2 separate regions of the Homo sapiens genome follow, and region 1 is linked to region 2. The links come from fine-mapping of genetic effects on gene expression. A gene starts in region 2. The other region holds a variant in brackets. All regions are shown on one strand. Distances are between the middles of the regions. Region 1 holds the start of LOC107986476 (a long non-coding RNA gene). Region 2 holds the start of SMIM23 (small integral membrane protein 23).

The links. PIP is the estimated chance that this variant, and not a neighbour inherited with it, causes the effect.
Region 1: its variant is fine-mapped to the expression of SMIM23 in lung (GTEx, PIP 0.93).

The regions. Positions count from the first base shown.
Region 1 is chr5:171,841,592-171,857,451 of GRCh38, forward strand. LOC107986476 (a long non-coding RNA gene) reads right to left here and starts at 6,527. Exons shown (of 3, transcript XR_007059052.1): 1 at 4,318-6,527; 2 at 3,915-4,103; 3 at 1-1,028. The variant A/G (reference allele first, on the strand shown) is at 6,113.
Region 2 is chr5:171,778,800-171,794,659 of GRCh38, forward strand. It overlaps SMIM23 (small integral membrane protein 23), which reads left to right and starts at 7,018. Exons shown (of 4, transcript NM_001289970.2): 1 at 7,018-7,177; 2 at 11,431-11,482; 3 at 11,683-11,750; 4 at 11,996-12,337. The coding sequence starts at 7,073. The coding sequence ends at 12,289. LOC105377725 (a long non-coding RNA gene) reads right to left here. Exons shown (of 4, transcript XR_001742985.3): 4 at 15,253-15,860. RefSeq lists an enhancer at 1,998-3,197.

The sequences.
Region 1 (15,860 bases), 63 kb after region 2:
CAGTCTCTTTTTTAAGGGCACTAATCCCATTCACAAGGGATCCACCTTCAAGACCTACTTACCTCCCAAAGACCCCACCTCCAAATACCATCACTTTGGGAATTAGATTTCAACACGGGAATTTGGCCGGGGACACAAGGCTCAGTCCATGGCAGAAAGAGAGCTTATTCATCACACTGGCTGCATGGTACTTAGGAGGTATGAGGTGTGCTGTATCCCCAGCACAGAGAAGGTGCTCAGAATTTCATAGCTTTCAATAAGTGAATGAGTGAGTGAGCGATTAAGCGAGTGAGTGAATGAACATAGAGGAAGAGTCTTGGACAACAGATGGAACAACCTTCTCCCTTGATCTGCGCAAACCTCCACCTGTCCCTGAAACAGCCCTCAACCCTGAGCCAACCCCACCCCTTTCTCCTCGAAACCATCTTCCTCTTAGTCCCTCCTCCTACTTCATTCAGCCGACATTCAAGTGCAAACCACCGGGAAAACCCAAAGAACGTTCATGGGATAAATCACCCAATTACTAATCAGGTCCATCCGTCCACCATTAACCACTATTTTCCCTGCAAAAAGTAAACACGCCTCCTCCCCACAGCCTGACACGAGGGCCATTAAACCCAGGAAGGGCGTGTCTCCACAGCAGCCCAGAAACAACTTGAAAGTGGAAAAATACGGTGGACTCGGTGATTCAGTGGTCGTTCAGATATAGCCAAAATGTTTGGTTTCAGCCTTGACGGAAGCCATTGCCCTCCTATTTCGTCTCCTCTAAGATCGGAGAGTGTGGACTTTGATAAGACGTCCTTCTCAGGTCCGACAGCTTTGTGCTTTCCCGGATGAGCTTGTCAAGCACTTGAGTTTCTTTCAGACTTGGCTCCTGCCCTGGGCTAGGCATGGGGGTGCCCAGAGATTCTGGCGCAAGGCAGGTGAATCTGAACAGTGCTCCCCAAAGGAAGCCGAGGTGGTGCTTCAGAAACCAGGGAGCGCAGCCCCCATACTTGGGCGACACATTTGGCTCTGGCTTCTGGCAGCTAAGGCAGAAAGAGAAGCACATGGGGTTGCATAGTTTTCATTTTCCAACAACAGAAAGCATGTTCAGACCTCGGCAGAGACAACATTTTTCCTGGAACCAGGCTCTAGAAGGAATGTATCGGGGCCCTGCGGGGTTAAGAGCACCAGGTGACAGAGCAGATGAGTCCTGCCCCTGTCCCTGCATTCGTTCGTTCATTCATTCAAGCAACCAACACCTGTTGAACCCTCATGCTGTGTCTGGCCTCACCTGGGGCCACAGAGAATGCCTGACACAGTCCCTGCTACTCAAGGTTTCCAATTCTCCCCCTCTACCTTCAGCCCCACACCCCCACTCCTCAGTTGATCACACCCATCCTCCCATCAGGAGCAACCATGACAGCAGTGTTACCCCAAGTGCTGGATTAGACTTCCTCCCTCATTTCTGGAATGTAACCATCTGGAGAGGAGATGGGGGCCGGGAGCTGCCTAGGTCCCCTCCTGCCCCCAGCAGCCAGCCTCCCACTTCCTCTTTGCTAACAGAACCCCAAGTGTTAGCAGGTGCCCTAGGGGATGCACGCTTGATCTAAGAAAGCCAGGCACTCCCATTCCCCTTCATTGACTGATCCTTTCCCTTTCCTTATAGCTAGAGATGGTCATGTAATCCAGTTCTGGTCAAAGACACGCCTGGACTCTGCAGAACCTCTGTTCTTCTTAGTAAATGAGGAGCCCCTACTTTCTGCCTCGAACACAGCGTCCGAAGACATGATGATCCAAGCTGTGGTAGCCTCTTGACTGTGAGGGGATATGTCTGGACTCTTCAAGGAAATACATTGAGGACAGCAGAATAAAGAGAAAGAGAGAGTTTGATGCTAACTTCAAGTCATTGGACCAACCTGGGATTGACTGCCGGCCTGCAGATATCTAGTATAAGATGTTGGCTGTGTGCCATGGCCCATGCCTGTAATCCCAGCACTTTGGGTTGGGAGACCGAGGCAGGTGGATCACGAGGTCAAGAGATCGAGACCATCCTGGCCAACAAGGTGAAACCCTGTCTCTACTAAAATACAAAATATTAGCCAAGCATGGTCACGTGGGCCTGTAGTCCCAGCTACTCGGGAAGCTGAGGCAGAGGAATCGCTTGAACCCAGGAGGCGGAGGTTGCAGTGAGCCGAGATCACAGCACTGCACTCCAGCCTGGCAACAGAGCAAGACTCTGTTTAAAAAAAAAAGATGTCTTGATTGTATAGGCCTCTGTTAGCTGGTTAATCCTATTTGCTTACAGCAGAATGCATCCCAATGAATACAACAGGTATACGTGCAATGAAAGAGAGTTCAGTCCTAGGGAGACTGCAAGGGGGAAAAAGTAGGCTCTGGGGTAAAATAATTAAATAATTCTTCCTTTCATGGTGGTCATGAAATGGTAGCTAACATTTATTTGCTTTGTGTTTTTTTTTTTTTCTTTGTGAAGCACCTGTCTGCTATTGGTGCTATATGTTTTTGAAAATTCATTTTTACCTCTCCAAGCCCATTTCCTCACTGGATTCATGGAAAGATGAAGGAGAGACTGCATGTGAAAAGGGTGGACATACTTTCTGTCTGGCTGGCTGCCTGTCTTGTTCACTGCACTTTCCCAGCACTAGATAAAGTTTTTTTTATTTTGTTGTTTTATTTTTAGAGACAGGGTCCCACCATGTCATCAAGGTTGGAGTGCAGTGGCACAATCACAGCTCACTGTAACCTCAAATTCCTGGGCTTAAGTGATCCTCTCGCCTCAGCCACCTGTGTGGCTGAGACTACAGGGACACACTACCACTCCAGGCTATTTTTTAAAATTTTTTGTCAAGACAAGATCTCGATATGTTACCCCAGCTGGTCTCTAACTCCTGGCTTCAAGCAATCCCTCCCACCTCAGCCTCTCAAAGCACTGGGATTACAGGCATGAGCCATCCCTAGTTAAAATTTGGTAAAGAATAAAGCTCTTTCCCTCCGGCTTATAAAATCAGGACTCAGTAGTTATTGCCAAATGTGCCCCATTGGTTAATTTGGATCTTTCCCCATTCCTTGCATGTCCATTGGCCATTCGGGCTTCATTCCTAGAATATATATTTTTTGGGGGAGATGGGGTGGTGGGGATGGAGTGTTGGTCTGTCACCCAAGCTGGAGTGCAGTGGTGTGATCTCGGCTGACTGCAACCTCCGCCCCCTGGGTTCAAGCAATTCTCCTGCCTCAGCCTCCCAAATAGCTGGGACTACAGGTGCCCACCACCACGCCCGGCTCATTTTCGTGTTTTTAGAAGAGACGGGGTTTCACCATGTTGGCCAGGCTGGTCTCAAACTCCTGACCTCAGGTGATCTGCCTGCCTCGGCCACCACACCCGGCCCACTCTTAGAATATTTAATGAAGATTATCTTGATAAATGTTATCAAAACATTCAATTGACAAACACCAAATCAGTGTTTTTATTTATTTATTTATTTTTTGCTTGTTCCAAAGTACTTTCTGTATATATGATTGCACTGCCTAAGTGTTGTTCTCTCTTTGCATATGAGAAAACGAAAGCTTAGAGAGGTCAACTGACTTTCCCAAGGTCATTTGCTGATAATAGAATCAAAGGACAAGAGGCCAGGCTCTCTTGTGCTGAGCCCTGGCCTGGCTCCCCACTGCCTTGGGGTGGTGGGGTAGGGCCTAGTGGGGAGGTGATGCTGAAGGTGGTGTGGGTGATGGATGGCAGTGCCGCAGGGCTCTTCTTTAAGGAGGCCCACCCCTGCCTTTCACTTCCTGCTCCAGCTCCACATGCCCTGTCATTTAAGCCTCAGCACTTTGAGAGGCCTCGAAGGCCGACCCCGTGACTCCCCCAGAAATGCCTGTGCTTCCTTCCCTGTCATCTCAATGCAGAGAGCGCTCACCTCAGCAAGTTCAGACTGTGCAGGCTCGGGAGGACCTTCCGCTCAGCCAGGAGCATGGCTGGTTTGTCTCTGGATCCTCAGCACGCAGCGGGCAGCCCAGAGCTGGGCAGGGCGTTGCTGCTCCATGCGCTCTGCACTGACTTGATGACGTAGAGAGAGAGAAGGCCGCCTGTTTCCCAGGTGGAGAAACTGCATGGGGAGAACATTTTTTTCTTAGACACCTGGGGAATGAAGCGTTAACTAAGGTGATACAACTTGGAGTCCGGGAAAGGGGATTTGGGCAGAGGCTGTGGAGGGGCCTGTGGGGTGGAGAAGGCTGCAATGATCCCAGGTCCCCAGGAAAGAGTGGATCCACCTGTGTGCAGACTTTCCCCACCCTAGGAAAACAGGATGCAGGCCTTACCTCCTGTCTTTGAGCCAAAAGGAGGGAGAGCCACCACCTGAGTGTCCCATATGAGACTGCTTTGCCCCAGGAAGGGGGAAAATCCTATGTCACTGCCAAGAAGGTCCAGCTAGCTTCAGTAGAGAAATCATGACATCCAGTGGACATATGTGTCATCCCCAGGCTCAGGCAATGGCCTCCAGCCAGGAGGCCTTCTAGGGCTGGGCCAACAAGGCACTGTGGAGTGAGCGCTGGGAGGCTGAGTCTGAATCCTGATTTTGCCTCTTAGCTACGTGACTTGGGTAAGTCTCTTCCCCTCGCTGGGGCTCTGTTTCCTCCACTGAAGTGGAGAGTGTCTAAAAGCATGTTTGTGAACTGTGATGCAAATAGGTTCTCCCATGATCAGAAGCTGTGTTTCTTGCTAGGAGTAGTTTCAAGGCAGTGCTACCTAGGAGAGGGAGGGCAAGCTTGAATGATGAAGCACGTAACCATCTCCCCGGGCACTCCTGCACAAATGGCTCGCAGCTGCTCCCAACCCTACAGGCTGTTGCCAGGATAAGATGAGACCTCTTGTGGGTGCACAGGCAACGGCACTCCTGAAATATGGGGATGCAGATGTTCCCACCCTGGGACACAGGATGAAAGCGCTGGGTGTCAGCGCCTGTGAAAACCTGCAGAGGGCCTCAAGGGATCCGCATTTCCTGAGCGGGGCTCCTGCAGACCTCCCACTACATCCAGGCTGACATCTCACGGGGCTCCAGGGCCAGCACCAGACAGAGGTCAAGGCCACCGTTTGGTAGAGCAGTCATCAGACCCAGGGAGCCAGGCTGGAGAGAAGGGGCAGAGCCAGAAGAGAGCCCCCCATCCCCCGCATCCCACCTCCACCACCCAGAGAGGGAGGAGGAAACCTGAATTACAAACCCAAATCAGAGCTTAAATCCCTGAGTTCCAGCCAGAAGAGAACTGGATTAAGCAGCCTGTGGTGAGGCACATGGAGTGGGTGGGAAACCAGAGTTAACTGCGTTCTGGACACAAAGTTGCATTTTTGCACACCTGAGTTTGTGACTGAGAAATAAATATTCTCTGTTTAAGCAAAGCATCTGGACATAGTAGGCCCTCAGGAGAGCGTGCCTGCCTTTCTGTTTCCTTTCTGTCCATGAAATGAGCTCCAGATGGTGCAGAACCCCGTAGGTCCACCTCCCACTCCCAGCAGGTCTGCATGTGAGAAGGTGCTGAGCCATTCATCCAGTTCACCTTGATTTCCCAGAAGAAAAGGAATGTGTGTGACCCCTCTGAGGTGAGCCCAGTCTGGGCATGAGACTAGTTCTCAACATGAACAATAACTTTGTTGTGCACCTACTATGTGCTGAGCACTTTACAGGCAGCGTCTCATCCCCCAGCAAACCTGAAGGGAAGTGTCATCCCCCACACTGACTTTACCCCCTTTGAGGGGGTGTAATGTTCTTTCAAGCTGCATACGCTTAGGAAGTTGAGGCACTGGAGTTTGAGCCTGGTTTCTGGCCACTTTCTCCCAATAAGGACTCTGGGCTTAGCCATATTCACTGAACCCTGGCTGTGTGCAGGACCTCATGTTGCCACTTCACAGTAAAACAGGAAAAGTTAACATTTACTCAACAAGTCTTGCATGCCAGACACAGGCTCTGTGCTTTCTATACATTCTTTTATTTATTCCTCACAAAATTCCTGTGATCTCCTCTTTCCTCCCATCTTGCAGATGAGGACCCTGAGGCTCATGGAAGTTACAGAACTCACCTGGGGCCAGTCAACCACTCAGCAGCAGGGCCGGGTCTGCCCC[A/G]GGTCTGTGTAGTGTCAACGTCCTCACTCTTGGCCACTCTGTGATTCTAGGAGAGAAGCCATGCTGTAAAAGATTCCAGGTCATGCCTTGACAGGTTACAGTGACCACATCCAGGAGATCTTTAAGGCCTTAATTGTGCCCTTCAGTTCCTGTCATCATCATTATCATTATCTCCACCACCACCATCATCATCATCTACATGCCTGAAACTGGCGTATTCTTATGCCATGAACTGTAAAATATTTCATTTATTTTCCCTACTTTAACCAGCCTTGTGACCTTGTTCAAGTAACCCCACCTCTCTAAGCCTCAGTGTTCTCATGCATGAAATGGGGCCTGTAAATTCCATTTGCAAAAGGACAGTGAGCTGTTGTTTTCATCCCCAATCCCTCTCCTCCCTGAACTCCCTCCCTGAACTCCCTCTCCTTCCTCCGTGAAGTGCCCTCCGCCCCCAGGGCCTGGATTCCGGCCACCAGCTCTCCTGCCCCGGCTTTTAACGTTGGTCCCTGCAACAGGCCAGAACATCTGCCTGTGAACGCCATGGAACTCTGCCCCTGCGCTGGGGTCCTGCCAGCAAAGAGTTTAAACAAACAGAACTGGGCAGAAACGAGATGGTCCGCCGGTTGTAAAGGGTCGCACCTCATGCGCACACGCTCGGGTTTCATGATAATCCGAGTGATGGTTCTCCTGAGGAGGATTAGGAAGAAAACGTTAGGGGGCTCTGCGGGGAGCAAGAAAAAGTGGTTGTGTACCCAAGACAAACACTGCCAAGAAAGTGGCCTTTGCTGACCAATAAACCAAAGTGTGGGAGGGGGTGGGATTGGGGTACTGGAGGAAAGGAAAATTTGGGGCTCTGTCCAACTCTTCTAGTGCCTAAGTCAGACCTTCACCAGCAGAAGACCGTTCCACTGAATGTGTGGAGAGAGATTACAGCAACCCCAAACCACTGTGGTCAGAGGCTGGCGGGAGCTCCTGCATGTGGGGGAGGAGCAGCAAGCCCATGTGCCCTCCAGAGCCAGGCAGGTAAGCCAGGAGGGGCGCAAGGGACACCGCAGAGCACACACAGTGAGCCACAGCAAATGACACCGGCCTCAGCACTGGGAAGGTATTAGGGAGTGGTGGGGACTGCATCCAGCTGGAGGAACACACCCCACCCAAAGCAGGCACCTGGGACTGAGCTGCAGCTCCAGCCGGTCTCTGCCAGGCAGGAATGTAGGCCCAGTGGTGCCAATCTTCTCTGATTTTTTTTTTTTCAAGAGAAGCAGAAAAGAACAAATTTTGTTTTTTGATGTGCAGGTTCTCAATTTTTAAACATTGGCAATGAGTTCAAATGGGTTTTGAAATACTATGTGGGCCAAGCAAAATATATCTGTTAGCCAGATTTGACTCACAGGCCACTGGTTTGCAATTTTCTGAAGTTTTGGTACCGTAATAAAAGCAATGGGTCCTGCCTGGATTCAAACACCAGTTCTCCCATCTGCTGGCTGGGCAACCTTGGGCAAGTCCTCTAGCCTCTCCAGGCCTCAGTTGCTCCATCTGTAAAATGGGGATAATAGTAGTGTCTACTTGATATGATATTTGAGAAAACTTCATGAAATCATGTCATGGAAATTCCTTGATATCTCTCTCTCTCTCTGGAAATGTTAGCTTTATTACTAATGCACCCTCTGCAGGCTCCCTGGGGGGATGGAAGATAAAAACAGCGGCAACGGGCAAAAACGGAGGTGAGGAAAATGGACCAAGCAGGCAGAACAGAGCCAAACCAGAAAACGCCGGCCAAGCTTTCCCTTACTTGCTGTGTCAGAATGGCCCTTCAGGGATGATTGGCACAAGCTGACATCAAATTGACAAGAAAAGATTGGGCAGTGGCCTGAAGAGTGGCCCTCCAGTATCTGTCCACCTCTTTCCAAAATAGCAACAGGCGACCTTGGGAGACCTTTTGGATTGCAGCAGGAAGAAAGTCAGTTACAGAGGGTGTCCTAGAGGAGGTAAAAGGATGCCTCCGGTCTGTGGCTCAGCCACTGCCCCACTCTGTGACTTCAGCCAAGTCATTTCATCTGCCTCTGAGACTCCACTTACCCATCTGTAAAATAGGTTGACAACAGCTGCCTCTCAGGATGCTGGTGGTGATTAGCGATCACGCAGTATAGGTAGGGTCTGGTACAGAATTCATGTTCGACAAGTGGGAGCTGCCGTTATTGGCTGTCGTTTAGTTATTTTTATGAATGAGGCAATAGAGGTGCTTGTCTGACCAGCATCCGCTGACCTCTCTTCAAGTAACTGCCCCGTTTGCCTCTAAAGAACCATTCCTCTCCTGTTCCCCACCAAATGGTTCCGTTGGTGTTGGCTCCTCCCCAGGCTCCAGGGACAGGCGTGTGAACCCGGCACAGCTAATGAGAATAGCGTAGTATCCCAGGCCAATGGGAATCAGATCCAGGACTTGCATTCAAACCATGAGGGAAGAGAAGCTTTCCCTTTCCACCAGATCTGTTCTAGTGAGGAGTAGGCCGGAGCTGCTGGCAGCTTTCTCACTGCCACATGGGAAGAGCCTGTCTGAGAATGATATCAATAATGAGGAAATCAGAGCAAAGATTTGGAAAAATTCTTGTTTCTTGATAACACTGCTTAAGCACCTGGATCCAGCTGTGCCTAAAGTTAGCACTGTGTCGGACTCTTCAGTTACCACAGCCAAAAAATTCATTTTCTGGCTTAGACCATTTTGGATTGGGTTTTCTGTAACTTGCAACCAAGAAACTCAACAGATATACGAGCCTTAAGGATGAGTTACGAAAACACCCCAGGGGAGAGTTTCATTAGCTGGCACGTCTTATAGGCTCTCAGACCATGCTTTGAGCATGATAGCACTACTTCCTTCTTCCAAGAGTATGATAAAAATCCTTCCAAGAGTATTCCAAAAGCCTTGCACAGACTTTGGGTAATCTTCTCTTAAAGCAGTGGTTCTCAATGGGAGAGGGATTTTGTCCCCTAGAGGACACTTGGCAATGTCTGCCTACATTTTGGGTTGTCACAATGGGGAGGCAGGAGGGATGATACGTGCTACTGACATCTAGTGGGTAGAAGCCAGGGATGCCGCCAAATATCCTACAAGGCACAGGACAGACCCCACAAACAATGATCCCATCCAAATGTCAGTCGTGCTGAGGTTGAGAAACCCAGGAGAAGTGATACATCATCCCGTGTTCTACTCCTACCAGCCCCACCATACTTAAAGACGAAAACCAGGCCACTTAATGGGAGTATGGGAACTTTATATACCTCATGATGTTTTCTTAGGGTATGCAATGCTGTGATTCAAGCCCAGTTGAAAGAAAGACATTGCCCAAAGTTTACACACAGATATGCCTAATCCCCTCTGGGGTCTGCAGCCTCCCTGCTATCACCATAACAATCACAGCCCATAACTACTGGACGAACAGGAAGAGCAGGAAACCTCTCTGAAGATGGACAGTCTAACACATGCCTGCTCTCCCACACCCAGCAATAATGGATCCGACAAATAAGCAAATTATACGAATCCCACATAGCCAATAAAGGGGGAAGACAGCATTTCCTCTCTGTCTAGAGGACCATTTCTCAGTGTACTGCTCCTCAGAACACTAGTCCTGTGAGATACTCAAAGGGGAAAAAATAATGATTTCAAGGTCAAAAAGGTGTGGGAAACACGAAAGCCCCTGTTACCTTTGTGGATGGTAACAACATCCATGAACACATGAAAGGCTCTGATAAGTCCCTCAGCAAATAAACCTGCTTCCTTTTCTTTAACTTGCTATTTCCCAAACTCACTTGATCTCAGAATCCCTTTGCACTATAATACTTAATTAATATTCCACTGAACTATTGTCCCACAGGACACACATTGGGAAACATTGCAAGGGAACTACAAAGAAAATGAAATATAAGATATTAATGAGATGTAATAGCTGATCCAGGGAAACCAGGTGACGGTGGAAAGAGACCAACCGCTTTGGCAGGAGAACTGTGCCTTAAACTTCTCAGTATTGCTCATCCCAACCTCCCTGGGGCACCCACTTATTTATGGCTACTCCAAGAAAAGTATCCTGAGGGCCAACCAAGTGCCAGGCATTGGGCTACCTACTGGGATTTAAAGATAAGTCATGGGCTGGCCGTGGTGGCTCGTGCCTGTAATCCCAGCGTTTTGGGAGGCTGAGGCAGGAGGATGCTTTAGGCCAGGAGTTCAAGATCAGCTTGGGCAACACAGCGAGACCCCTTTCTCTACAAAAAATTAAAATATTAAAATTAAAAATAAAAAGAGATAAGTCAGACTCCAGTAGACACTGCGGTAATGAGTAGGAGTCAGAGACCTGGCTGCAGAGCTGATGATGTTGCTCTGTGAATCCAATGCCTTCCTGCTGAGCCCTCTCACTTCCAGGAGCCATGAAACACGGGCGCATTTGTCCCTTGGATCTCAGTCAGTTATACTGACCTTGTCAAAGCTTAGCAAGGAGCTGGGGTGGATGGGGAGGAGCAGAGCCTCCTGGCGGAGTTTGGGTCCTGATCTGTGAGTGATGGTGTCAGCCACACCTGAGTGCCCTCCTAAGGGAAACCATCCCATCAGGAGGCCCAGGGGGAGGGAAATGGCTTTAGGCTGCGCTTGAACAAGGAATGCCCCCTGATTGGTCAAAAGGGTCCCCTGAACTCAAGAGCAGCGCATCCATTGGCTGCTTGGTGACCTATGAGGACGCTGGAACAAAAAGCCCCACCCAGGAGTTTCAAGTCATGGAGCTGATCAGGCTCTGTCCCTTTGGATTTAAATAGGAAGAGACTGAGTGAATCAGCAAATTGGTGGCGGAGGAGAAGTTGCTCAAGAAACCAAAAGCTGACACTGGAGTGATGCAGCGAAGTTTTTGTGAACTCCGGCTACGGAGGGATCTGAGAGCTAAAAGCCTGCCCAAATTCCTGACCTCGTGGCACAACCAGGGCAGACCCCAGGCAGGTGGCCCACGGCCCTGGCTCTTATTCCGTGAGTCAGCACGGGAAACTTGGGGTTCGGCTGCTCCTCGAAGAGCCAGTGCCAGCTCAGCCTGACTTCGCCCAGGGAAAGGCACCGTTTTGGAACCCCACAGTCACCAAAAGTGGGACCTCAGTAGTAATGACAGTCCTGTCCAAATGCTGCTGGGATGGGTCTGGGCTTCAGCAGGAAGCCCCTTCGCCTCTGAGGGCACCTGTGGAGTCTAGGACCATTTGAACATCCCAGTTCCTTTCTTCCCAGTTCCTTTCATCCCATGTCTGCCATCGTGACACATTCTGGCTGAGATCACACCCAGAGGGTTGACAAGGCTGTCCCAGAAATCATGTGGTGGGCACCGCAGAAGCACAACAATGAACCTTGTTCCTGGAAAAATAAGGCCACGTGCTGTATCCAGAAGTTCTAGACAGGGCTGAATGGGGTTTGGGAGGTGGGGGTCAAGATGAGGAAGGTAATCAAGGTTATGTACTTGCCTGGGTAATGAAATTATGCCACCAAGGCTTACAGAAAGGGGGCCAGGGTCAACTTTGCTTTCCTGAATTCTGCTCTCCAACCAATAGAGTTACAGAGGGGGCAGCAGCCACAGGACCACATCTTTGGATACTCATGGACACCAAGATGGCAGGAGTAGACACTGGGGATGGCTAGACGGGGGGAGGGAGGGGATACGTGTTGAAAAACCACCTATTGGGTATGAGCTCAGTACCTGGGTGATGGGATCAGTCGTACCCCAAACCTCACCATTATGCAATATGCCCAGGTAACAAATCTGCACATGTGCCCCCGAATCCAAACTAAAAATTGAAATTCTTGAAAAAAGGGAACCATGTTGTATACCCCTTGAATTTCACTTGCAGTTTTAGAACCTAAGTCTCAGTGACTGCTGTCTCAGGGCATGAGGGTGAGAGCCAGTTTGGTGAGGCCACCAGTGGGTCCCACAGGCAGCAGAGGCCCAGAACTCCTCTACAGCTTTCCAGGAACCATGCATCTATCAGCAAGACTTGGGTTCAAATCCCACTGGGTTCACTGAGCCCCCATGTCCTGCTATACAGGCTCTTCCATTTAGTTATGTGTATGATCACAGTTGTTCTCCCCACAACAAAGCTTCCTCACACATAGTAAAGCTATGACAAAGGCTACATAGTAAAGCAGAACGGGGCCGGGCATGGTGGCTCATGCCTGTAATCCCAGCACTTTGGGAGGCCAAGGTGGGTGGATCACTTGAGGTCAGGAGTTCAAGGCCAGCCTGACCAACATGGTGAAACCTGGTCTCTACTAAAAATACACAGTTAGCTGGGCATGGTGGTGCACACCTATAATCCCAGCTACTTGGGAGGCTGAGGCAGGAGAATCGCTTGAACCTGGGAGGCGGAGTTTGCAGTGAGCCAAGATGGTGCCACTGCACTCCAGCCTGGACAACAAAAGTGAAACTCCATCTCAAAAAAAAAAAAAAAAAAAAAAGCGAATGGAATGAAACTTGCAGGCAATTTAAAATTTAGGATTTACCCTTTTCTTGTCTCCCTCTTCCTTCTCACTTCCCTATCCCTCCCAATAGTTAGTTTAAAAGCAGAATCATTTGCATGACTGAGTGCTTGCATGTAGACTTTTCTCTTTTTGCCCTTGGCCAGCTTGATGGTACTCAAACTCTCAATGGGTGCAGGAATCACTGCACTGGGTCCCATCCATACACACTGTGTACTGTATTGAAGCCACATTTTAAGGGTTTTTCAAGCATCTTGGACTCTATGGTTTTCCACCTGCAGTGCTCACTTTAGAATCTGAGCATCATGAAAGGGGAAACTCCACTGCATGCCCAAAGTTCTGGAATCCAGGAGTTTGTTCATTCAACACATCTGCGTTATTAGTACCTGCGACTGGGGCTGAAGACACAGAGAGGACCAAAACATGGGTCCTGGCATGGAAGAAATCAAAAGTCCTCCATAAACCCTGGCTGGGCTCACTTCATCTCACTGAATGCTCCGAGCAGGTCCGGGAGGGAGGACTGATTAGAAAGGAGCCGCGCCCTGTCCTTGGTCACCTTACCCCTGAAGAGCGTCGATGAGATTCAAACCCAAACTTTTCTGACCCCAAAGGCAGACTATTTTGACCCTTTCTGCTCGTGCACATTAAAAGCTAAAATACCAAAGAGAAAGTGAAAACGGCTCAAAAAGAGTTCAGGGGCTGAGGGCTTTTAGCTCCTGCTCTGTGGACCAGGGAGGAGGTGATATTTGAGCTAGGCCTTGACGAACATGCAAAAGTAGTCATTTCCCACAGGAAAAGGCGTGCCTAGTGGCAGCAGCAGGGGACACTGGCCAGCCTCCATTCCCCTTTTTGCTTGGACCCCAGAATCCTAATCCTCTGGGGATCTGCCTCCCTTCCATTCTCAGCCCGTGTGGTTTGTGTGGGGTCGACCCCAACCCTGACCACCAGGGATTATTTCCGTGGGTTTTAAGGGTGGGCACATGATTCTACCTGAGCCAAGGACACTTAGTCCCATGACTCTTTGGGGCTGCTGGGAAGAGATTTTGCTCCACCACAGATGCTCAAAGGATAGGACATGCTCTTGCGGCTGCTGGGAAGAGATTTTGCTCCACCAGAGACACTCAAAGGATAGGACATGCTCTTGGGGCTGCTGGCAGCCACCTGGATACCATGTGGAAGCAAGCCTGCTTTAGAATGAAACTGTGAGAAAGGAGAGCCAGACAGAGAGGCAAGGAGGTGAGGCCCAAGAGCTGATGACACAGTTGGAGCTCCTAGATCCAGCCATGCCTGCGACCAGCCCATTCCTTGGGTATGTGTGACACAAGCCAATAAACGCCCTTCTTTGCAGAAGCCAGTTGAATGGGACTTCTAGCCCTGGATCAATAGAGTGAGCAGAGTGGAGGGCTGGGAATACTGGTCTGAGAGGAGGAAGCAGCTGAGACTACATGGGTCATTGCTATTCAGTTGGGACTGCAGAAATCAAAATTATTTTTTAACCTCTTATTTATCACCTCTTATTGAACGTAATTTACAGAGGGGTTGGTCAGAAGCCAGGATAATAGAATTGTATGTGCCTTAGCAGATCTACTGTGGCTCATATTCTCATTTTGACGAGGAAACTGGGGCTCAAAGAGTCAAAGGATGTTACCCAACGTGTTGCAGACAGCAAGTCACCCTACTGAGAGCAGGATGCTAGAGAACAGCCCCGGGATAAGCCAGCTGGGATGTAGGGAGTGGGGGAGGACCTAGATATTGGGCTGAGGAGAAGGAAGTAGTGGGGAAGGCACCTGGCAAGATGCCTGGGCCGGGCAGGCGGCATGGATGGCCAGCCTCAGCGTCAGAAGGAGCAAGGTTCAGATCCTGGCTCTGCTGTTTTACTAGCGGAGCAATCTTGAAAGCCACTTCCTGTCTATGCCTCAATGCAATTGTTTATAAAATGTGGGCTCAGTTCTTCGTTTAACTACAATTTCTTGAGCTCTGTGATTACCACTTCCCAAAATGGTCTCTGAACAAGACAAACAAGGTCCTGGTACTTCAGGTGACATTTCTGGTAAGGAAAGTCAAGAAGCATGGCATTTGTTCCTCATCCGCCTTGCTGTGTCATAACGTAGGCTTCCTGGAGGCAGGGATATTTGTCCGTTTTGTCACGGCCTAGCTTAGCACCCAGCACATAGTAGGCCTTCAATAAATGTGTCTTGAATAAATACAAGTCAACAAATAAAGTAATGGTAAGTACTATAGAGTAAGTGGAACGCAGGATGCAATAGGGGGTAATGTGGGATAATTTAGATTGTCTGGTCAGAGAAGCCTCCTCTTTGGGGGCAGTACTTGGGCTGAGACCTGAATGATGAGGAAGCAGCCGTGCAAATAGCTGGGGAAATGCATGCAGTGCGTGCAAAGGCCCTGAGCTAGAAAAAAAGAACGGAAAGAAAGCTCATGTCGCTGGAGTGGGAGTGAGAGAGGAAAGCATGACATAAAATGGCATGGAAGCAGGGAAGGCTCAGATTACTGCAGACCATAACAAGGAGTTTGAACTTGATTCTAAGCACAGTGGCAGTCACTGGGGAGTACTGGGCAGGGGGGTGACATGCTCTGACATGTGCCCACTGTGTGCTAGATGGATTTCAGCAGGAAAGACCATAATGTATGTTACCCACAGCGTCTAGCACATAATAGGTGCTCAGTGTGCAAGATATCCGTCACTGCCCCAATGCCACATCCACATGGTTTGCCAACATCCAATCCAGGCCAAGAATCATGTTCTTATCCTGGGTTCAGCCTCCCTCCAGCTACCCTGTATACTGGGACAGTCCCAGGGAAGCCAACAGACTAAGCTTTGGGGAACATCCTCCTGTCTCCTTTTGGTTACGGTAACAACCCAGGAGAGACTATGGAGAGGCCGGGGGCGAAGGCGGGAGTGAGGCCTTCTGTTAAATGTTGAGTTGCTCCCAACATACTTTTCAGACATTCGTTCGCTTTGCCCAGTCTCCTCCGTAAGAGACATGCTTTCGGATGTGTTTTGAAAAATATTCCATATGCTAATGGAATGTCACCATCTGCCAAAGAAGGCAGAGCTGTTTTTAAAGGAAAAACTATTACAGAAATGAGGTATTCACAGAGGGGCACTAAAGAGCCCAAACGTCGCTGACCTGAGTCTGACCTGGGCTGCCTCGTGTTACCAACATGAAAAGGGAGTGAGAAAATCTGAGGCCAATTAACTTCTCTCCCTCTCTCTCTCTTTTTCTCCCCTTGCCCACC
Region 2 (15,860 bases):
TGGCATTGGAATCCCACCACGCAGGGTATACATTTACCCCAGTATTCCTTTCTGGTTCAGTGTCTGCCTGTGGTATGCCCCTGCCCATGGTCCCAACGGCTATTCTTCTCCCTGGAGTTTCAGCCTTCCCATCAAATTCAGGAGGTCCCTCTCTCCTCTCCAAGACTGGCCGTTTCCAATTTTAGTTAGCCATAGGGGCTTCTGTGGCTCGCCATAGCAGGTAGCAAGCTCCACAGAGCAGGGCTGTTTCGAGGATTAGGGACAAGCCTCGTTTGAGCACAGCAGACACACAATAAGAGAGTTCACAAATTGATGGCGTACGTTGGGCTCACAAAGTGAATTTTTTTCTAAGTTGAATTTGTTGCCAACATTTACAAGCCAGGAGGTTTCATACAAAAGACTGAATTTCTTACTTCTCTTGAAAATAAATCAGAAGTTCTCACCACACTGAACCCCACATTCTCATGCAACAATTGGCTGGCCTTTCTGGACACACGTGTTATGATTTTGCCATGGTCCCCACCATGCCCTTTCGTTTCACACCCAGACTACTTCTCTCATTTTATTAACTGTTCAGTACCTGTATGCATCTGAGTTTGCAATGTTTGTTATAAATACAAGTCTTTATTCTGTAGACTAAAGGCAGGCACCAGACCCAGGCTAGGACTGGGTTCTGGTTTCAGGCCCAGGTTGTGAGGTCTTTTCCCATAATTCTCAGTCTCCCCAGACATCCTTTCTTCTCCCCTCCAGCTAGCCAAAAACACCTCCTCCTTTATGAAGCCATCCAGTCCTCTTCCTTCCATAGTCCCCACCCACTCCTGTACAGGCTTGCCAATTATGTCATCTCTATCAGTTTTCTGGATAGACTTTTCATATAAACTCTTTGCAATCTTACATTACTGGGAGAATTAAATTGAATTGGCATGGGGGCAGCCCATCAAATACTTGGAGAAGTGAGGAGGAGAAAAGGAGGCAGGAGTGGGAATGAAGCGAGGAAGGCAGGGAGAGAGGGAGAGAGGAGAGGAAGGAGAGAGGGAGGGAGGGAGGAAAAGAAGGAGAGAGAGAGGGAGAAGGGGGGAAGAGAGAGAAACTACCTGAGGTTCCAGTTTGAGCCAGGCACTATCCAGTTAGTTCATCTCGTTTAGCGCTCCCAGTAACCCCGTAAGACACATATTATTATTATTGGCCTCACTTTTCAGATAACTGAGACTTAGAGACATGATGTCACTTTCCCAAGTGAATGTTACAATGATACCAGGATTTGAACCCAGGTGTGTTTGGGAGACAGGACTCAAGCACAAAGCACTGCTTGGTCTCCACTTATTAGGTTTGGGGCAGATTTCTCCCTTGGCAGAGTGTAATTTTTCAAGACTGATTAGTTATTCCCCTGGAAATCTTTATTCATTCACACATTTCCATTCATTCCCTGCCCCCGCCAACTCATTCTCACATTGACTTGCTCCCTAATTCCCTCCTTCAAAGGCCTCTCTCTCCTTTCTCATCCTCTCCCTCTTCCTTTACTAGGAAGTGTGAAGCACCCAGTGCTGTACTAGACCCTCTGCCAGTCCCCCGCCCACACCAGCTACTGGGCCAGTTCTCTGAGGGCCAGGTGGGGAAGCTCTTCCTCCCTCTCCTCCCTGCCCTGAGACCAAATCCTGGAAGCTCTGCCTTCCGAAGGAGTTTCCTGGAAGAATTTATTATGTTTCCTAGAAAAATGTGACTGTAATTCATTACTTTTTTTGTGTGTGACTGTAATTTTTTTTACTGTAATTCATTACTTTTTGTGACCATAATTCATTACTTTTGATGTGCCATAATTAGCTTAATGAGCAGTCCTTACGTACCTGCATTTGACATTTCAAATGTGTCCACCAGATAAAGCCCAAGAGCCAGCAACTGCATGGGTGCCTGCAAGACCATCAAGATGATGCAAATGGCCTTTGGAGGGCCCTCAAGTGGGAGGCAAGAGACTTGAGTTCGGTACCTTTCCTTGGACTGTCTTGGGTTGGACTCTTTCTTTCTCTGGTCTTGAATCTTCCCAGGGAAGGAGCAGTATCCAACGGCCACCAAGAGCCAGGGTGCTGTCACAAGAATGGTAGAGTCCAAATCTCAGCCCTGCCTCTTACCAGCTGAGTAACTTTGGAAAAGTGTTCAGTCTAAGCTTCAGTCTCCCCATCTGTAAAATGGAGACAAAAATATGATTTACTACCTAGAGTTGTAATATTTATATGGTGAACCAATGCATGTAAAGCACTTTGCACAATGCCCAGTACTTAGAAAACTCTCAAAATATCTTAGTTGCACATGGTAATGATACAGGAGTTAAGAAGAAACTAATTAGTCAGATAGTGAGGGTGCAGAAGTCCTCGGTAAGGTTTTCCTTTTAATGAAAAGCAGCCCCCAATTATTTTCCTTTCTGACAAAGAACAGCCTGTAAAATCGAGCTGCAGACATAGATGCTGCAGTTGTGCCAATCATGTTCAAGATGGCGGCTCCGTCTTCCCTTCTCTCTGTCTGCCACATGTATACTAAGGAGCAGACAAGACAGCCCCGGCTAAGGGGAAAGTTCATTTGCATAATAAGATTAGGGTGGGGCAGCTAGCCTTCCCCAGCTATGTAACTGTCATACCTCATGGAACCAATCTGTGAGCCCCATGTAAATCAGACACCACCTCCGCAAGCCTAACTGTAAAATTCTGGTGCATCCACCACCGGCTGGTCTTTTCCTCTGAGAAGTGCCCCCCCCCGTCTCTAGAGCTGTTTTTCTTTCTCCCTTTTTGCCTATTTTGTGTGTCCGTGTCCTAAACTTACCTGGTATAAGACGACGAACCCTGGATATTTATCCCAGACAACGTAGCTGCTTTAGTAATAATAATAAAGATATGCAGAAAAGGCAAAAAGGAGTGGAGATTGCATGAAATGCCACACGCACCAATCTGGGATAGTCATGGAGTTGGAAGTGAGAGGTGAGGCCAGCTGGACTCCCTGGGTCGAGTGGGGACTTCCAGAAATTTTCTGTCTAGCTAGAGGATTGTAAAAGCACCAATCAGCACTCTGTGTCTAGCTAAAGGATTGTAAATGCACCAATCAGCACTCTGTAAAAAATGCACAGTCAGTGCTCTGTGTCTAGTTAAAAGATGTAAATGGCCCAATCAGCACTCTGTAAAATGGACCAATCAGCAGGATGTGGGCGGGGACAAATAAGGGAATAAAAGCTGGCCTCTGCAGCCAGCAGTGGCAACCTGCTTAGGTACCTTTCTAGGTTGTGGAAGCTTTGTTGTTTCGCTCTTCACAGTAAATCTTGCTGCTGCTCACTCTTTCGGTCCACCACCTTCAAGAGCTGTAACACTCACCGTGAGGGTTTGCAGCTTCATTCTTGAAGTCAGCGAGACGGTGAAGCCACTAAAGGAACAAACTCTGGACACAGAAGGACAGGAGGGAAGATGGTTATGTTGGATATTCAAAAAGTCTAATGGAAATCTCACATCTACTTACGGACAGTGAAGCCACAAAAGACAAGAATGGCCACTTTCTTTGTTTTTAGCTGAAACTACATTAACTCCTTGTGGTAAACGAGAAGACGTTGGAGTTAAATAGACCCATACTAAGGCAGGGTATGTGCCACTGGGTAAGGAGAGTAACGTTCCCAACAGAAACTAACAGTGCCGGCCTTGCCGGGCAGTTAGGAGAATTAGATGAAATAACGTGTGGAAGGGACTTACCCTGGGTCAGGCGCACAGTAGGTACTTCGTTCATGACACCCACTAATTCCGATACCCTTCCCTAGCCACCCCGGACCTCGGCTTCTTCAAAACGTAAAAATCATACCACCTGCTTTACTCATTCGGCAAATATTTACTGAGCCAAGTACTGTGAATACAAAAATGTATTCACCAGACAAAGTTCCTGGCCTCTCAGAGCCTGCAGTTTGAGACCGTTCATTATTCATCCTTTCAACAGGTATTTTTACTGAACATTTACTATGTAACGGGCTGCGTAAGGGGCATCAGAAATGCAATGTTTAGTAAGACAGATTTAATTCCCCACTACCCACAGAATTAATAGCCTAGAGAAGCTGTAGTAAAGTAATCTAGTGAAATGCCTAGTGTATAGCCGGCCTCCGTATGTAAGTTATCTGGGTGCCAGTCAGAGCTCTGTATGTGGAACTTTGGTAAAGTTAATTCACAAAATGTGGAACATTGATGATTTCTTAACACATGAAATTTGTTTGGCACATGGGGGCTTTTAAAGTATAAGGAAAGTCCAAAGAATATGAAATATTTAGGTATATACCTAACAAAACATGTACAAAAGCTATATGCCAAAAATTACAAAGTGCTGGTTAAAAAACAAATGAAACGGAAGACCTAAATAAATGAAGAAGCATACTGTGTTCCTGGGATAGAAGACACCACATAGTAAATATGATAATTCTCCCCAAAGTGATTCATAGGTGTGATGCAATTCCTATCACAATCCCAGCTGGCAAAGTATTTTGTTATGAAGTTTATATGGAAAGGCATAAGCCCTGTGAGAGCTGAAACAATCTTGACAAAGAAAAACAAAGTGGGAAAAATCACTCTACTTGCTATTAAGGCTCACCGTAAAGCTACAGCAGTCAAGACAGTGTGGTATTGATGCAGGGACAGATACATAGATCAATGAAACAGAATACAGAACAAATGGTCCTGGAGCAACTGGACATCCATAAGCAAAAAAATTAACCTTAAACTCCACACTTTATACAAAAATTGATTCCAAATGAATCATGGGCTGAAATGTGAAGCGTAAAGCTATACAACCAAAAAAACAAAAATAGGAGAAAATCTTCGGAACCTAGGGCTAGGTGAAGAGTTCTTAGACTTGCCATGAAAGAGCACAATTCATAAAAGAAAAAGTGATAGACTGGATCAAAACATAAAACATTTTATCTGCAAAAGTCCATGTGATGAAGTTGAAAAGATAAGCCACAGACTGGGAGAAAATAATTTGCAAACCATATATCCTAAGAAGGACTAGTATCTAAAATGAGCAAAGAACTGTCTCAAAACTCAACTGTAGCAAAACCAATCCAATTAGTAAATGGGCAAAAGACAGGAACAAATGTTCCACTGAGGAAGGGGTGCAGATGGCAAATAAGCTAATATGAAAAGACGTTCGGGCAGGGCATGGTGGCTCACACCGGTAATCGCAGCACTTTGGGAGCCCGAGGTGGGAGGATTGCTTGAGCCCAGAAGTTCAAGACCAGCCTGGGAAACATAGCAAGACACTGTCTCCAGCAAAATAATAAAAAATTGCTTAATAAAATTTAAAAAAAAGAAAAGATGTTAAACATCATTAGCTATCAGGGAAATACACATTAAAACCACAATGAGATGTTACTAAACACCTGTCAAAATGGTTAAATTAAAAAATAGTGAAAACAGCCGGGTGCAGTGGCTCACGCCTGTAATCCCAGCACTTTGGGAGGCCGAGGCAAGCGGATCACAAGGTCAGGAGATCAAGACCATCCTGGCTAACACGGTGAAATCCCATCTCTACTAAAAATACAAAAAATTAGCCGGGTGTGGTGGCGGGTGCCTGTAGTCCCAGATACTCGGGAGGCAGAGGCAGGAGGATGGCGTGAACCCGGGAGGCAGAGCTTGCAGTGAGCCGAGATCGTGCCACTGCACTCCAGCTTGGGCGACAGAGTGAGACTCTGTCTCAAAAAAAAAAAGAACAAATAGTGTAAACAGATATTGGTGGGGATGAGGAGAAACCAAATCACTCATACACTGTTAATGAGAATGTACAATGGCACAGCCATTCTGGAAAACAGTTTGACAATTTCTTATAAAACTATCATGCCATGATGCTATGGCCCAGCAACTGCACTCTCAGGCATTTATCCCAGACAAATGAAACTTACGTTTACCCAAAAACATGTACAAGCATGTTCATATCACCTTTACTCGCAAGAGTCAAAAACTGGAGGCAGCTGGGTTTTGAACAGGTTTGGAACGTGTCCTTCATTATGGCATACACATATCACAAAATACTACACAGCAGTCAAAAAGAATGAACTACTGATACATGCAACAAATTGGATGAATTTCCAGGGAATTATACTATGTTTTTTTTTAAAGCCAATCCCCAAAGGTTAAATACTGTTTCATTCCATTTATGTAGCATTTGGAATAAACAAATTTTAGAAAGAGAGAGCAGATGAGTGATTTCCAGGAGTTAAGGACAGTGTGGGTGGGGTCGGGAGGCAGCAGCCATCACGAAGCAGCACAAAGCCCCTTGTAGTTTTGAAACTCTTCTGTGTCTTGACTATTGTCCTAAGTAAGCAAACCTACACAAAATTGTTTAGAATTAAACACACACACACACACACACAAATGAGAACAAGTAACACTGGGGAAGTCTGCGTAAGATTGGTAGAGTGTATCAATGTCCACATCCAGGCTGTGATCTCCTACTGCAGTGAGGCAGGATATTACTGTACCACTGGGGGAAAAATTCATAGAGGGTACACAGGATCTCTCTGTATTGTTTCTTACAACTGCATGTGAATCCACAATTATCTCCATACATTTTTCAATTAAAAATAGCTTTTATTGTTTTTTTTTTTTTTGTAATTTTTTAAAAATAGAGACATGGTCTCACCATGTTGCCCAGGCTAGTCTCAAACTTCTGGACTCAAGCAATCCTCCAGCCTCAGCCTCCCAAAGTGCTAGGGATTACAGGTGTGAGCCACTGCACCCAAACTATTGTTTTTATATTTTAGAATTAGCATTTTTATTAAAAACTTGCAAATATAGAAGAAAATAATCAGAAAAATCATCATCCTGAAACATAATCTTTTGATGCATTTCTTCCTGATCTTTGTTTTCTACACTCATGTGAAAAATAAAAATGAGGGAAGGGACTAAAAATCAGGGTGGTGGAAAGGTGGGAACCTTGCTGTCCCTACCTTCTGTGACATCAGAACTCAATGTTTGCAGGATGCCTGGTGACCACAGGTGGGGGAGGGGAAGGGTGCCCTTCTGTCTGTTGAGTGTGGTCCACCCAGGCAGCCAGATCTGAGGCCATGGCAACCCAGCAAGTGGACAGCAGAAGGCAGGTGGCAGCAGAGCAGGTGGCAGCCCAGCTGCTTGAACGGAGAAGGGGCAGCCACTGTGATGACGAGAAGCAGGTGAGGCCAGGCCAGGTACATGCTGCTTTCCTCCCATCTGGGCTCCTTTTGCCACTCCAGACAGACTAGAAGTCCCTCAAAGCCCGGAATGAATCTTGGACCCAACCGTCCCTGGATCCCACTCTGATGGAGCACAGTTTAGGGGCCTAGGCACTTCTTGCCGGGGCCATCACTGACACTGTCTTATTAAATTCTCAGCACTGCCAGCAGAAGGTATGTTCCAGGAGGACTGGGCTTTTTGTTTAGTTCCCTGCTGAATCCCTAGTGCCTAGCATGGTGCTTGGTGCCAAGTAGATGCTGAATGAACGAATGAACTGATAATACTCCTGAATTGGAGCGCTCCTGGAGGATTCATTCTCAGGGCTGAAATTCAAAACTCATGTGGGATTTCGTCAAAATGGAAAACATTAATGCTTGCTGCACACAGCCTGGTGCATCCACACCCCATCTCTTAGATGCTATCAACCTCGTTCACAGAGGGTAATCTGAGGCCCAGAAAGGCAAAAGGGCCGTACAACTGGGACATATCAGGATTTGAAAACACATCCATCTGATTTTAGAACTCCCTGAAACCAGGTTCATCTGCTATGAGAACCCTGAGCAAGGGTTTATTCTGAGGATAAGAAGAAGCTGTTGACGGGTTTTAAGCAGAGCAATGAATGAATGAGCTCTGCTGTCTCTGTTTTCAAAAGACTTGTTCACTCATTAATTTACTATACATGCACCGAGCGCCTTCTATATGCTGGACCTTGTAGCGTATAACAGGGGCCTTCATGGGCACCCATCATGCTGCGGCTTTTCCTAAAAAGTGTTCCATAGACACCAGACCCCAGGAATGCTCCTTTTAGAAACATTCTTTACAGAATTCTGTGGCTTGGGGAAGGCTGCATACCCGCATCCCCTCCTGAAGACTGACGCTGCTCATTCACGTAAGGAAGGCTCTGAGAAGTCCTGCAACAAAGAAGTCTGCATAGCTTTGTTTACCACAGCATTTCCCACCTTGATTCTACCAGAGTCCCATTGTTTCCTTTTTTTTTTTTTTTTTTTTTTTTTTTTTTTTCTGAGACGGAGCCTCGCTCTGTCACCAGGCTGGAGTACAACAGTGCGATCTTGGCTCACTGCAACCTCCTCCTCCTGGGTTCAAGTGATTCTACTGCCTCAGCCTCCCGAGCAGCTGGGACTACAGGCGCCCGCCACCACACCCAGTTAATTTTTGTATTTTTAGTAGAGACAGGGTTTCGCCATATTGGCCAGGCTGGTCTCGAACTCCTGACCTCATGATCCACCCGCCTCCGCCTCCCAAAGTGCTGGGATTACAGGTGTGAGCCACTTCTTCTTTTTTGAAAGACTTTGCAGTGTATTTCAAAATCCATTTTACAGATGAAGAAACTGAGGCTCAGAGAAATTATTTGGCTCAGGCCCCAAGACGACACAAGGAAAAGGACTCAAACTCAATCCTAGTCCATGTTCCTCCCTTTGCCTCCATGCAGCACAGTATGGAAACCAGCAGCAAGAATGCCGGGGAAGAAATCAACCTGTAAAATACATTGATAGAGGACTGGTTAGACACATAGAAGAGCTTCCAGGCCACGAAAACTCATCAGCCATTTTAAAGATTGTGACAATTAGTGTGTGTCTTCCATGAAAAGATTCCTAAAGAATATTGTTAAGAAAAGAAAAAGGACCCTAATATTACATGTACAGTGTGATGATTTTGCATTGGGTGTACACACAGATCAAACTATGGAACATTTCTAGCACTGAGGGAGGCTCTTTTGGGGCTCCGCCCACCTGGCATCCCACCCTTCATAGCAGTGATTCTGATTTGTGTCATCATAGCTGAGTTTTCTATGTTCTTGAATTTCATGTAAATGGAATCATACCATGTATACCTTTGTGTCTGACTTCTTTCTCTTATCATTGTGTCTGTGAAACTCAACCAGTTGTTGCTATGTAACATTTTTTTTTTAAGTTAATAGTAATGTAGTTGCTAGTATTATAAAGAAAATTATCTGGGGAAGAGGCAAGTTAGACACATCTTTCATCTTCCTTGTTTAGTACTGGGTCTAAATGTCACTTCACATACTTGGGTGTGTAAGAAATTTATTCTTTCTTTAAGGCAAACTAGATCTGACTCAGCCAACATCTAGTGAGTTTGGGGAAAATTCAATGTCAGTCAATATGCACACACACACAAACACACACACACACACACACACACATATTTGAAAAACAAGAAAACTTTAAAAGCCATGGTCAAAATTTCCACATTAGCAGAAAAAGAAGAATTAAACTCAATAGTATAAAGAAATAAATAATAAAGACAAAATCAGAAATTAATGAAATGTAAAGCAGACAAACAATAAAATTAATAACCATTTTTAATTGGTAAAATTAAATTAAGAATTGGAAAACTTCTAAATAGACTCAACAAAAAACATACATAGAAAGAAAACACAAGTTACCAATATCAAGAATGAAAGAGGTCTCTTGTTTCCTCTCTTGACCTCTTTTCTTTATATATATTTTTTAAAAAGAATAAAAGAGGATTATTATCATGACTCTTACAGGCATTAAAAGAATATTAAGGTAATATTAGGAACAATTTGATGCCAATACATTTAACTTAGGTGAAATGGACAAATCTTCCTTGGCAGTACAACTTACAAAATTGACTCAAGAAGAAATAGTCTTAATAACTACAGGCCCAAAAGTTTTCACCAATAAATTTTATCAATCCTTTGAGATGAAAATAATACCAATCTTACACAAATTATTTCATAAAATAGAGGAGGAGGGAGTTCTTACCAACTCATTTTAAGGGGGCAACAAAATCTTGATACCAAAACTTGACAAACGTGTAGAAAAAAAAATTTTTTTTGAGACAGATTCTTGCTCTGTCACCCAGACTGGAGTGCAGTGGCGCAATCTTGGCTCACTGCAACCTCCGCCTCCCAGGCTCAAGCGATGCTCCTGCCTCAGCCTCCCGAGTAGCTGGAATTACAGGCACCGGCCACCATGGCCAGCTAATTTTTGCATTTTTAGTAGAGACGGGGTTTCGCCATGTTGGCCAGGCTGGTTTCGAACTCTTGACCTCAGGTGATCACCACGGCCTCCCAAAGTGTTAGGATTACAGGCGTGCGCCACCGCGCCTGGCCTAGAAACAATTTTAAACCAATCTCTTCTGAATATAGAGGTAAGAAATCTCAACAAAATAGTAGCTTATCAAATCACATGATATATAAAAAGGCTAGCTAATGCATCATGAACAACTAGAGTTTACTGAAGAAGCTCATTTGGCTCAATATTTAAAACACAATTAATGCAATTTACCACAAAAATGGGGACACATATAGTTGCTCAGTGGGTAAAGAAAAGTCATTGGTGGTTTCTTATAAAATTAAACATACATTTACCATATAACCCAGCATTTGCATTTCTGAATATTAACCCAAGAGAAATGTGAACATATGTTCACATAAGGAATTGTATATGAGTGTTCATAGCACTTTTATTCATAATAGCCCCAAACTGGAAACAAGCCAAAAGTCCATCAACAGGTAAAGAGACTGATTGTGCAATATTCTATGTTCATATAAAATAAATACTCATCAATAAAATACACAATATACTCATCAATAAAATTGAGCACAAAAAAATAGAGGCATTTCGAAAACATTGTCTTAAGCAAAAGAAACTAAATGCAAAAGCACACACACTGTGTAATTCCACTTATACAAGGTTATGGAACAGGCAAAACTACTCACAGTGACAGAAAACAGATTAATGGTTCTCTCCAGGCAGGGCAGGAGTGAGGATGGAATTGACTGCAAAAGGAAACTTTCTAAGATGACGGAAATGCTCTACATCTTGATTGGGGTGATAGTCTACAGGTATAGACATTCATCAATACTCATCAGACTCATCAGACTATACATTTTAAATGTGTGCGTTTTATTATATGTAAATTATACCACAATGAAGTTGATTCCTTTTCAAGATCAATTAAAATGAAAAATGTTTACATGAGAGAAAATGCAAATTGAACATCAGTAAGTTGCAGTGTTATCTATTTCTTCAAAGTTTGGGAGTTTTGTAGTAAGTAAGTGTGACTTAGATAACTAGAACAAAAGTTAAACTCAAAAAACTGTCTTATAAGCATTCCCATGTCTGGCCCTTTGTGATGGAAGCAGGGGGACCTGGAGAGAATTCATCCTCATGTTCTTCCTCCTCTTCCTCTTCTTGCACCCTAGACGCTGTTGGCATTGCTGATCTTGGTGCTGTACTTGAGCACAGAGATATGGGGTGAGCATTCTGGAATCTGAGAAAGAAGGAACCAAATCCACATGAAGCTTGGTGGAGTGTTCCAAAGATGGTTGTATGTTAAGGGGACCTCCATAACCCACCTTCTCCCACTGACCCTTCATCACACTGGGATAACTAACCATGTTTATTTCAATTAGTGCTCATTTGCTCTTCAGAGGTGATGTTTGTGCCTGTTTCAGGAAGCAGTTGGGAGGTGTCAGAAAGGATCAGAGAATGTAACTACTACCAGAATCTTGCAGTTCCCCAGGTAACATGTCCAGCAAGGTACTGAGGTGAGGCAATCTGGGAAGGCTTTCCAGAGGAGGTGTCATTGGCAACATGGGTCATGAAAGATAAGTAGTCGCTTGTCAAGTGCAGAAGGTGGGAACAGGTACTACGAGCACAATGAGTAGCATGTGCAAAGGCCCAGGGATCTTTTTGAAACCAGTGGGGATGGGGAGGAGGGTCCTATCTGAGAAAGCACAGGATGCCACTTCTGTGTCTGCCTTCCAGGGGCTTGAATATCAGACCAACGAGCCCTCAGAAGAACCGATAAAGACCATCAGGAACTGGCTGAAGGAGAAGTTGCATGTCTTCTCGGAGAAGTTAGAGGAAGAGGTGCAGCAGCTGGAGCAGCTAGCGTGGGACCTGGAACTGTGGCTGGATGCTCTTCTGGGAGAGCCACACCAGGAGGAGCACTGCTCCACATATAAAAGTCACTTGTGGGAGTGGGCCTGGGCCCTGGGGAGAGAGCACAAAGGTGGGGAGGGGTTGCTAGAGATTTCTCTAAGCGGGGCAGAGCTCTGACTCTTGAAGTTCCAGTCAGGCAAGAAAATAAAGTAGTTGGGAAATGAAGTCCGCTGTTCACATTCATGAATGCTGACAGAAACAGCGTTGGCGGAACACCAGAGCCCGGCTGAGATATTCTCCCTGGCACCATGACGTGGCCCCCTGGAACAAACACGGGCTTCAGAGCCAGCCATAGGTTCAGGACTCTTCTACTTTCTTGAGACGTTGTGTAAATTTCCTTAACCTGAGACTCAGTTTCCTCACATATAAAAATCGGGGAAACACACTTTGCCTTATAGGAAGACAATGTATGTAGGGTGTGTATACAGAGTGCGTCTGGCACAGAGCAGGTATCGGATAAATAGCTCTTCCTTTCTCACATGCCTTTTCCTTCCTCCCTGGAGTGTGGTAAGAGGATACTAGCTCTGGCTAAGTGTGTGGCTATTATGCGGCATTCAACCCTCTGACTCTGCTGGTGGAAGTATACGTTCCTAAAATCTCTATTTGGTGATAGCTATCAAATTTACAAATGCATTTTCTCTTTGACCCAACAATCTGCTTCAAGGAATTTATCCCACAGCTGCATTTGCCCACACATGAAATTACATGTGTATAAGATTATTCACCCCAGCTTTATTTGCAGTAGCAAAAAAATGGAAGCAACCCAAATGATACCAGGAGGGCTCTGGTTATATAAGTTATGGTACAGCCAGACAATGAACAATCATGTAGCTATAAAAGAGAATGAGGAAGCTTTCTACTATGGTGTGAATATGGGTGACCCCCAAAATGCATATATTGGAACCTAATACTCAATGTGACAGTGTTAAGAGCTGGAGCCTTTCGGAGGTGATTAGGTCATGAGGATTCTCCCCTCATTAGTGAGATTAGTGCCATTATATTAATAATAGAGGCTTGAGGAGCCTGTTTGCCCCTTCCACCATGTGAGGACACAGCTAGAAGTTCCCTTTTATGAGGAATAAGTGCTCACCAGACACTGAATCTGCTGGTGCCTTGATCTTGGACTTCCAAGCCTCCAGAACTGTGAGTAATAAATGTCTATATTTACAAATTATGCAGTCTAAGGTATTTTAACTGCCCACATGGACTGATACTTTCCTTCTGCTAAAATGGGAAAGCCTGAAAGATATGTAGTTAAGTGAAAAAAATTAAGGTATAGGCCAGGCACAGTGGCTCACACCTGTAATCCCAGCACTTTGGGAGTCCAAGACAGGCGAATCACTTGAGGTCAGGAGTTCGAGACCAGCCTGGCCAACATGGTGAAACCCCGTCTCTACCAAAATTACAAAAAATTAGCCCAGCATGGTGGCATGCACCTGTAATCCCAATTACTAGGGAGGCTGAGGCAGGAGAATTGCTTGAACCCAGGAGGCAGGGGCTGCAATGAGCTGAGATTGTGCCACTGCATTCCAGCCTAGGTGACAGAGTGAGACTCCGTCTCAAAAAAAAAAAAAAAATTAAGGTGCAAAAAGGGAGCAGAAGATAAAAATATATATTTTGTTGTTGATATTGATGATGATAATGACGTTATTAAATATGCATAAAAACTCTAGAAGGATACAAGCCTGCCTGGGAGTGAGGGGATTTGAAACTGGGAGATGTGTAACAAGGATGGGAGGAAACTTTTCAGCATATATTTTTCATACTTTCTTGTTTTCAAACTATGTGAATGTTTTGCTTATTCAAATATTTTTTAAAAACAAATTTCTATTTTGCATGCAGACAAGAACTGGAATATATGTATATAAGCAAAAATAACAGTATCATTATGATGAAATTATGATTGAATTAATTTTTAAAAACAGTCCCAAAAGAAAACCCTTCTCTTTTGATTACTTTATTTTGATTAAACAATGATCATTTTTTATCTAGGACTTCCCCTTTTTCCTATTACCTCCAGGAAACTTATAGTTGTTTGTTACTGGAATTTTATCAGCCTCATTGTTTTGGGTTATTTATTTTCCCCTTTCTATGACTTTTTTGTTTTCTATTCTGATGGAGCTATTATACATGTACCAATTATTAGAACCACCTCAAATCTTTGGATAGTGATGAGGGTTTCAATTACACTAATCTCAGAGGACATCTGACTTACAGGGGATGGCACAGCAATTTGTTTGCCAGGAGGGATTAATCAATTGCCATTTGGGATGGAAAAAGTCTTTGCAAATTATGATCCCAATTTTCCACTTTGAATATTTGGCAGGAGGTTGGGACCAGAATCTATTTTTTCACATTTCCAGCTATTTCACCAAGAGTTCTACGGGAAAGGTCTGATTGATATTTGCTTGCATTTATAGTTACATATTGCCATAGAGTAGTTATGTATGTTTATATTATATTTATATATTATATATACTTATATGTTTATATTGTATATGATACATTTATAAATATATTCATAAAATATATATTTTATATATGTATACAAAATTGGGGGATACATTTTAAAAAAAAAGAAAATGAGGCCAGGCGCAGTGGCTCCCACCTGTAATCCCAACACTTTGGGAGGCCAAGGTGGGCAGATGACTTGAGGTCAGAAGTTCGAGACCAGCCTGGCCAACATGGTGAAACCCCATCTCTACTAAAAATACAAAAAATAGCCAGGCATCATAGCACATGCCTATAGTCCCAGCTACTTGGGAGGCTGAGGCAGGAGACTCTCTTGAACCTGGGAGGCAGAGGTTGCAGTGAGCTGAGATCTTGCCATTGCACTCCAGCCTCGGTGACAGAGTGAGACTCTGCCTCAAAAAAAAAAGAAAAGAAAAGAAAAGAAAATGGAGCTTAGACCTTTGAGGAGTTAAACCACCTCTGCGGGTATTAGAACCTTTGAGAGGAGCTAGCTATTTGGAACCTCCCCTGTCCCCCCCCAGTGCTGGTGTGGGCCCCCAACCCATTGATGGTGGCTACTTTTGGTGTGTTGGCTTGTGAGCCCATAAAGAACAGGGAGTCACTTGGGATAACTCAGGCAATAAGGGTTTATTGTGGTGCTACAAAGGAGCCAGAATCTCCCCCCAAATCCAGGGACATACCAGGACCTGGGATTGTGGAGACTGGAATAGGGAGGTCTTTGAAAGTTCAGGGTGGCTCCAGCGCCCAGCTGCAGGAATTCTGGAGCTTTCCCCTAGCACGCCACCTTTACGTTGCCGTTCTCCAGTGTTGGATTCCTTTGTGTGTCCGCTCCATCTCTTCCTGCTTCCAAGCTTTGTATCTCTTCTTCAACTTGGGGCTTCTGCTTCTGATTCATCATAACTCTGATATGTCCCTACCCCATGTGGCCACTTCCGCCTACTTTCCAACTTCTACTGACTGTGTGATTCTGTCCACATTCCCCAAGTCAAATCCCAGGAGGAGTGGGTGGGATATGGCTGACCCATATGGAAGAGACAGGCTTGGTCTTGTTACAGGGAAAGTGGCCAGTTGGGAAATTGTCATGAAGATCCAATTATCTGCATTTCTTTTCTTTGTTTCAGGCACCTGGAGCATGAGGTCAGCATCAGAGATCATTGGCTGGGGCCTCCTGTGCCAAGCCAGGCTCTACACGGCAGCCTGCCTTTGGGATGACCTT